Homo sapiens: one gene and its partner. The protein of the gene in region 1 interacts with the protein of each later gene in a pairwise test. Each region holds a gene or a part of one and is shown on either strand. Other genes may lie near its edges. The genes, in order: HSFX2 and MAL2.

The links.
Region 2: the proteins of HSFX2 (region 1) and MAL2 interact in binary tests that used the Homo sapiens proteins (3 or more experiments, as listed by UniProt).

What each region holds. Positions count from the first base shown.
Region 1 is NC_000023.11:149,593,215-149,597,129, reverse strand, and holds the start of HSFX2 (heat shock transcription factor, X-linked), read left to right. Parts: upstream 1-1,815; 5' UTR 1,816-2,429; coding exon 2,430-2,993; intron 2,994-3,830; coding exon 3,831-3,915.
Region 2 is NC_000008.11:119,214,595-119,218,409, reverse strand, and holds part of MAL2 (protein MAL2), read right to left. Parts: intron 3,788-3,815; exon of another isoform or gene 2,783-3,787; intron 1-2,782. UniProt on the Homo sapiens protein: Member of the machinery of polarized transport. Required for the indirect transcytotic route at the step of the egress of the transcytosing cargo from perinuclear endosomes in order for it to travel to the apical surface via a raft-dependent pathway.

The DNA of each region.
Region 1 (3,915 bases):
AAGCAAGAGATGGTCCATGCTTTTCTGACGTTCTCAGAATAGTGGCTAGCTTCAAACCTGACAAGCGCTGCTTGAAGCCGGAACACTAGAGAATGTTGCTGAGAGCAGAAACGGCCACGCGGGTCACGACTATGCGTGGGAAAGTCTCAAGCTTCCCTCCTGCCAGCAACAAGAAGGCTTTGGAGTAGGCATGATGTTTTCACGTGTGCGTGCCGTTTCTCCAAGCACTGCAGGTTCCACCGTGTGTCAGAGGCTGCAAGTTTAACATCCTCCTGCCTGAAAACAAATAGGTCCTTTGCTGAAAAGAGGGTAAAAAAAGAGCTTTGATCTTCTCAGCCAGGAGAAGAGGGTGGTGTTTTCACGCGGGCAACTGCTCGCCGGCCTACATGGGGTTAATTCAAGTCTGCTGCGAGCACGACTCCGCCCTTGGCACTGGCCTCCAGCAAGCCCTGTTCTCTTTGGGGTACAGGGGAACGGGATGGTTTAGACTTTCCTGCTCAGTGTGTAAAAAATGTAGCTAAAGCCACTATTTTTGCTCTCCTTAAGCTGTTCAATAAACCGGTTCCTCATTTTACACGTGCATGATGTGTATCTTCTTTGCTGGATGGGCCAGGAAACTGGAGTGGTCCTCTCAGCCAGCCTCAGAGGAAAGAAATCTCTAGCTGGCACAGGCAGCCAGTGAGTGAGGCTGGCGGCTGCAGGGGCACAGCCTTTAGAATGAGTCCTTCAGTGCACAGGTCCCAGGGTATACGGGGTAGTGGGAGGAAGGAGGGGACGCCTCGCAGATGCCACTGTTGGCTGGGCTACACCTTGCCACACTTGTTACTGCTTAGGAGGCTTTCTGGAGTGTTCCTTGGGTGCTACGACAATCTGCAGCAGACACTGTCCTTTCACCGCTCCTGGTCCTCGTTTGCTCCCCAGTGATGTCAACAGCTGAGGACTGCTCACGCTGCAACAAAAGGCTCTGCAGTCGCTGTCTAGCTTGCCCTAGTCGTCTCTAGAGTTCTGCCTGAACTGAAACTCAAGTGGGGTTCAGCTCATGACTTGTGGCAATTGACCAGGAAATTCACCAGTTGCTGTGGCTGGAAGGATTTTCAGTCCTGTGGGTTGTAACCAGAGGCCACAGGTGGATTCTGCCTTAGGCTCATGAGATTTCCGACTTGCTGTTGAAGAAAATGCCTTGTGAAGTGACAACAGTAGCTCTGACCCAACTGCCGGTGCCTCGCTAGTTCCTATACGTCCCACTGGATCCTCACAGCCCCGGGAAGCAGGTGCTACTACTCTTATCCCCGGGAGGAGACAGAGGCCGAGAGAGGTTAAGTGACGTGCCCAAGTCACACAGCTCGGCAGCGGCCGGGTTGAGCATCAGCAGTCTGTTTGCAGACCCCTCACTGTCACCCCCTGAGCCAGTGCGCCTTGGGCCCTGCGGTCAGGATGTCTCAAGCGTGGAGGCATCACCGGTTCGTGGCAGTCTCTGGAAGGTCACTGAGCTCTGTGCCCAGAATCGAGTCGGGGGAGTCTGTGCAGAGGTGGCCCTGTGTGTGGGGACAGTGTGTGACACAGACACTGCTTTGGATGGACACCTCTCCCGTGACCTCCTAGCATCCAATCCCAAAGGAACAACTGTTGCAGAGATGGACCGCTGGACACAAACCCACGTGCGTTTCTCTGGAGACACTGGCCAAGGAAAACAAAACATGCTCGAAGGCCAACAGCTGCATGCCCCACCGCGATGTGACCGCAGACACCCGGGGTGTAGAAGGGTCTCTGCCTGGTGGGGGGACACGTGCAGGCCGAGGAGAGGCAGGAAGGAGGCTGCCTCCGACTCCCCACTGGACTGCATGGCGACGGCGTGTGGTGGGGCAGTCAGCTAAGCCATTTGCCTAAGGGGCTGTCGGGCATCTGCGTGCTGGGGACCGACAGTGTGGGTGTGTTAGGAGGATCTGTATGGAGCACATTGCTGCCTCTGGCTAGGACAGGGTGGAAAGGGTGGCGTGGCTACAGCCTGACCCATGGGCACCGTCCTACCCTTTGTTCTGTGCTTCCGAGTGTCAGTCATGTGCTGGGGTCTGTGGGCCCATGACTCAGACGGTGAGCTCTGACCTTCCTGAGCCAGGGCTTTGCTGTAGTTGTGCCTGGCTCAGGAGCTCTAGGACAAGGGGACCGCTCCAGGTCTGCATCTACGGTGTGGCAGGGCCCCTCGGCACTCTTGTGCACTAGTGTCATCTTTCCCATTGAAATGACTGTGAGGACCAGAATGTGCACATGCAGATGGGCAGCTACTTGTCTGCCTTGGCCCTTTATTACACAACTTGCTGGGGGTGGAGATGCCACCCCCCGGCAGTCAGAGCCCCTTTATGATGTCATGGGGCTGGTTACATGACTGCCAAGGGGTGCTGCTGGCCACACTGCACTAGCAAGTTTGCCAGATGGAGGACAAGCGATCATTGAGTATGGCTCGCTGTGAAGAAAGAAATTCGAGGGGACAGGATCATGGCTTGGAAAGGGTGCCTTTCCCTCCCCAGTTGCAGTCAGAGACCTACCTTCACCCAGCAGATCCTTCCCCTGCCTGGGACGACCCGGGGTCCACTGGGAGCCCTAACTTGAGGCTGCTGACAGAAGAAATCGCTTTCCAACCTCTGGCCGAGGAAGCTTCGTTCAGAAGGCCGCACCCTGACGGTGACGTCCCGCCCCAGGGAGAAGATAATCTCCTCTCCCTCCCCTTTCCACAGAAACTGTGGAGACTGGTCAGCAGCAACCAGTTTTCGTCCATCTGGTGGGATGACAGTGGGGCTTGTAGAGTGATCAATCAAAAACTCTTTGAAAAGGAGATTCTCAAAAGGGACGTCGCACACAAAGTGTTTGCCACAACTTCGATAAAGAGCTTCTTCCGCCAGCTAAACTTGTATGGCTTCCGAAAACGGCGTCAATGCACTTTCAGGACCTTCACCCGCATTTTCTCCGCAAAAAGGCTGGTCTCCATCTTGAATAAGGTAATGAACGACAAGCCTCTGGAGGGGTTAAGTCGGTGGGCTCTGGGGCCTGGTCGGGTGGAAGTCCCAGGACTGCCTCCTGGGAAGTGGGCGACCTCAGGCAGGGTGTGGGGCCATCGCTGTGGGCCTGTGTCCCCCTCTGGGTGGAGGTGACATGAACTAAGAGTGAATGTGGGGAGAGGGCTGAGGATGGTGCGGGCCCCTCTCGAGTGTGTAAAATATCACAGGTGCCAAGTAGCCGTATCTGCGTGTCGTCCTCCCCGGGGCCAGCCATGTCATCTGGCGGTTGCTGTGTCCCCCTGACTCCACAGCACATTACCCTGTGAGGTGAGCAGGCCAGGGGAGTCTGGTATTTGTACCACTGTCACCCTAGCTGGTGTCTGGAGAGGTGCTCAAGTGGAAGCACTGAAGGGCGCCTGGCGCAGGAGGTGCAGATGCTCCTGCTGCCCTTGGTAGGTGGGCCCCTGGTGTGGAAGAGCCAGTACCCAGGGCCTCCAACCCAGCCGGGGTGCATTCTGTTGCCAGCTGACACTGCATGGGGGAGGCCCAGAATCTTCTTCCCTCCTGGTCTGCAACTTCAAAGACCCTTTCCGCCGGCCATGGACACCCTAATCTGCCATTTTGAGGCTTTTTCCAAGACGGAAAGGCCCGCCACAACTTGGTAAACCTTGACGATGTGAACGCGAGTCCCCAGCTTCCTTTGGGGACTGGGACCTTTTCCAGAAAGGCCTCCTGGGCCAGTAGAGTTCTCTTGCACAGGGGCGTAGATGGTTGGTAGTTGTAGTCCATCCTTGTGACTTGCAGTTTCCTTTTGTTTATTTAAACTTTGACTTATAGTTAGAGTTCTACTGCCATCCTTACTTTCAAAGAGACTCCCCTCACCTCCTCGTGAGGATGAAGAGAAGAGTGGGTGTCAAGTCTG
Region 2 (3,815 bases), on another chromosome or scaffold:
GACAGCAGAGGCTATACTGTAAAATAGTATAGACTAACCGTTCTTATCGTACTCAAAATTACAGCCCTTCAAACACCTCAAAGGCTTGGAAGGGAAACTAAATGCTGCATGAACAGGAGTCAGATTCACCTCCTCACTTGTGGGGTATGTGCTGCATGGAAAGGGGAGAGGGAAGGAGTGTAGGAATGCCCCCTCTCTCTCACTCAAGTAAATACATATGATACATCCCTAGAGCTGAGATTCTGTGAAATCCAGGCTCGCTTTGGAAGAGAGAGGATGGGCCAGAGAACATAATTGAGCCCACTTTGGAGGGCCACCATCCTCATTTTGAGACTGTCATACTGGTGTATGGATCACTCTGGCCTTGACACAGTTATTATTCCCTACTTTGTGATTTCCTTTTGACAAAAGCTACTTTTCTTCTTGAGCTTCCCAACTTGGCTCCAACTTAAACTTGGCTCCAGTTTTTTTAAGTTAAAAAACTGAACTTAAAAAATTGAGATGACCAATGCTCAGTATATTCACTTCCTCTAATTCCGGGCATTAGTGAGCTTAGAGTGTTTGCAAAACGGTGTAATTATCAGCATTCCTGTTCAGTAGAGACGACTCTGGAGGTGGCCATATTTTTAGAAGTAAAAAGCAGAACACAAAAATGGTTAAATCTGACAGAGAACAGATGATAAATACAGTAGCAACTGCAGAGTACACACTGTGAAGAAAGGTATTCGGAACTATTATATGTTTCGCCCACGTTATTCTCATCGTCTTGGATCTGAATCCATATTCTGACCCCTTCCCTGCCACTGCCTTCCACTGCTTTCTAGTGTTCTAAAAAATCCAATAATTATGTATAAAATAGCCAAAGGCACCTCAATTTGAAATTTCTTTAAGAAACTAAGTCAGTGCTTATGACGTCAAACCTCAAGCTCTAACAAAAAGACTACCTTTGCTTCCAGGCAATACAAAGGTAAAAACCTCCTAGGAGTAGGTATCAGCATCTCCCGGTGACTCAGTCACCTTTTATCTTCTTAACCCAACTTTAGGTGTACTGGGTACATACCAGAAGTACTCAAATATATTCTGAGTTGCAGTTATTAAATTGCTACACATTCCTAAAACAACTGATCTTCTTTCTGGTTTAACACATGTTTGTTATGTTTGCTTGGTCTCTGCAGACCAGAAAGGTATGACTTGGCTGAAACCCTACCATAAGAAAACCACGGAAGTATTTATCCACAAATCACACTAAACTGAATCCTCAGGGTTTGATGTGAAGACATGTTTTCACTAGAAACTGTGGAATGGGAAAAATACATAGTCCCACGGGAAAACATGCTCTTGAGCAAGTAGCAACTCTTGCAATTCTGGGTGCATGAATTACAGATTCTTAACTCATCTCCTGTTTGGACGGTCTTATGTTCCCAAAGGGTTCCTTTTGCAAATGCCCTTTTTCTTTTCAAATGTCACTTATTTCCTAATTACCTGCTTTTAAACATACCCTCTGACAGCTAAAAATTTTTTCAAACCAATTTGACACCTCCATCTTAGTATACCCACAAAGTAAACCGGCTAATTTCTACTGTGACCTATTTTCAATTAATGTTTGGAATGAGAACAGGAAAAGGTAAGTGAATTTGAAAGGATAAAGGCTGGCTAAACTACCCATAAGGGAAAACACTATTTAGAACTTTCCGTATTAAGCTCCCTCCTTCTAATTCTATTATCTATATATTGGATAATTCATTATTCTACTGCAGTGAGAATGAACACCCAGCAAACATAGAGGAAAAGCAAAAAAATATTTGTCTTCCAGTCTGGCTTGTAGAGTTAGAGTAAGAAGTTGAAGCTAATGGTGATAGCAGAAATAGTACTTAACATTTACTGAGCTCTTATGTTATAAGCACCGTTATAAGGGTTTTATTTGTGCCAATTTAATCCTCACAGACCTTGAGAGACAACATTATTATTCCTACTTTATAGGTAAGTTAATTGAGGTACAAATCCATTCATAACTTGTTCCTAGTTATATAGTTAATAAGTGTTAGACCTGAAATTTGAACTTGGCAATTGGCTTCCAGAACTTATGATTTTAACATTCTGCTATTCTGCCCCTCTCATGGTTTAGTGTTCATTCTAAAGCAGGGTTTCTACCCATATTCCATATGATTTCCTAAAATCATATAAAATTGGGTGGACAAGTACATATGCATTTTTCTGAGGACACAGTCCACACCTTTCATCAGAATCACAAAGGGGTATGTGGCCCCCCCACCCAGAAGTTCAGAACACTTTATCTACTTGTAACCCCTTCTATTTTAATGGATGTTTACTTATGGGGTGCTGCACAGGAAACATCATGGTTATAGAAGTGTTCAGTATATTCAGAAATTTATCAGCTAGAAAAAAAAAGATTATCTACAATTAGCTATATTTTACATACAATTCGCATTTTGAAAGATTTCCTTAAACTAGAAACATACTTAGCCAACACATACAATATAACTGGTAGATGTATTTACAAAGCAGCCCACACAAGTATGGATTCATTCACAATGCGACTGTAGATCACTGGTACCACTACAAGGCATACTGCTGCCCCCCTCCCCAAGCTCATCATCTTCCCTGTAATGCTTCTTTTCCTACCACCCTCTCTTTGCATTCCAGCCTCTACCCCTCATCCCCTGAGCATAGAGAAATGATCACACTTGACCATGTTTCTGCCTAGCATGCTGCCAGTAAAAATTCTGCTGCATAACTAAACTCCAGTTACCATGTTTTCCAGAAAGACTTCCCTGGCCAGGTGCCATCCCTCGGTGCTTCCACGGTTACTGACGCGTGTATTCTCCACAGCAATTACAACTGGATCAAAATCATGGATCTACATGCCCATTTCACCCACTAGACTGTGACGTCAGAGTCGGTGACATTGCCTTCAACATCTCCGTATGCTCATTACCCAGGGTGGTGCTTTCTACAGAAGGTCCTCAATCCATCCTCCTTGAAATGAATGGAAACCAACCGGCATGTGTAATGAATGGTTCCAAAAGAGAATGCTCTAGGAGTGCAGCTTGGGATGCTAGGAACACACTCCGGTCTGGAGCCCAGCTCACTCCCTGGTTCATGGTGGATGTCCAAAAATAGGCATGAAAACGAGTGAAGCGAGAATATGTACTTCTCAATTCTCAAGTTATTATTGGTGACACCCACCACCTAGTACCAGATCTCAGGAGGCTGAGATGGAAAGTTATGGGAAACTTTGTACCTCTTGCCAGTTGAATTCATGACACCCAATTTTAAATCTTTTTTCGGCCCCAAATTTGCCCACATGACCTATTTCTATTGTAACTGCCACTGGAACTTTTGACCAGGGTAAATCTTGTGCCTTCTTCCAGTGCCTCCTGCTCCCCTCATCAGTCCCCATCTGTCCTCTAACCATGCTGACTTCTGTCCAAACTGCTTCTGGACTGGCCCTGGCATAGACCTGCATTAGAGATGCAAGGCAGCAAGGTGTTTATTTATTTAGTTAGTTAGGAAAACAGAACAAATTCTGGGATGTAATGAGAAATGACATACACATAAGAGGCTTATGACCAAAATACGTTAATACTCATTGCAAAAGAAGTTCTACTTTTTAGCTTTACATTTGAAGGCTTTAAAAATATGTCTGAGAGTGCTATAGAGAGTTATACTTTCTTCCTCCCCATGTGACCTAAACCTCCAATTCAGCTGCTTAAATAGCTGACACCGACCCTAAAATGGAAAGCTCATATTACAGAGGAGAAATATGTTCTGGTTCTTTTTATTCTTCTTTATAA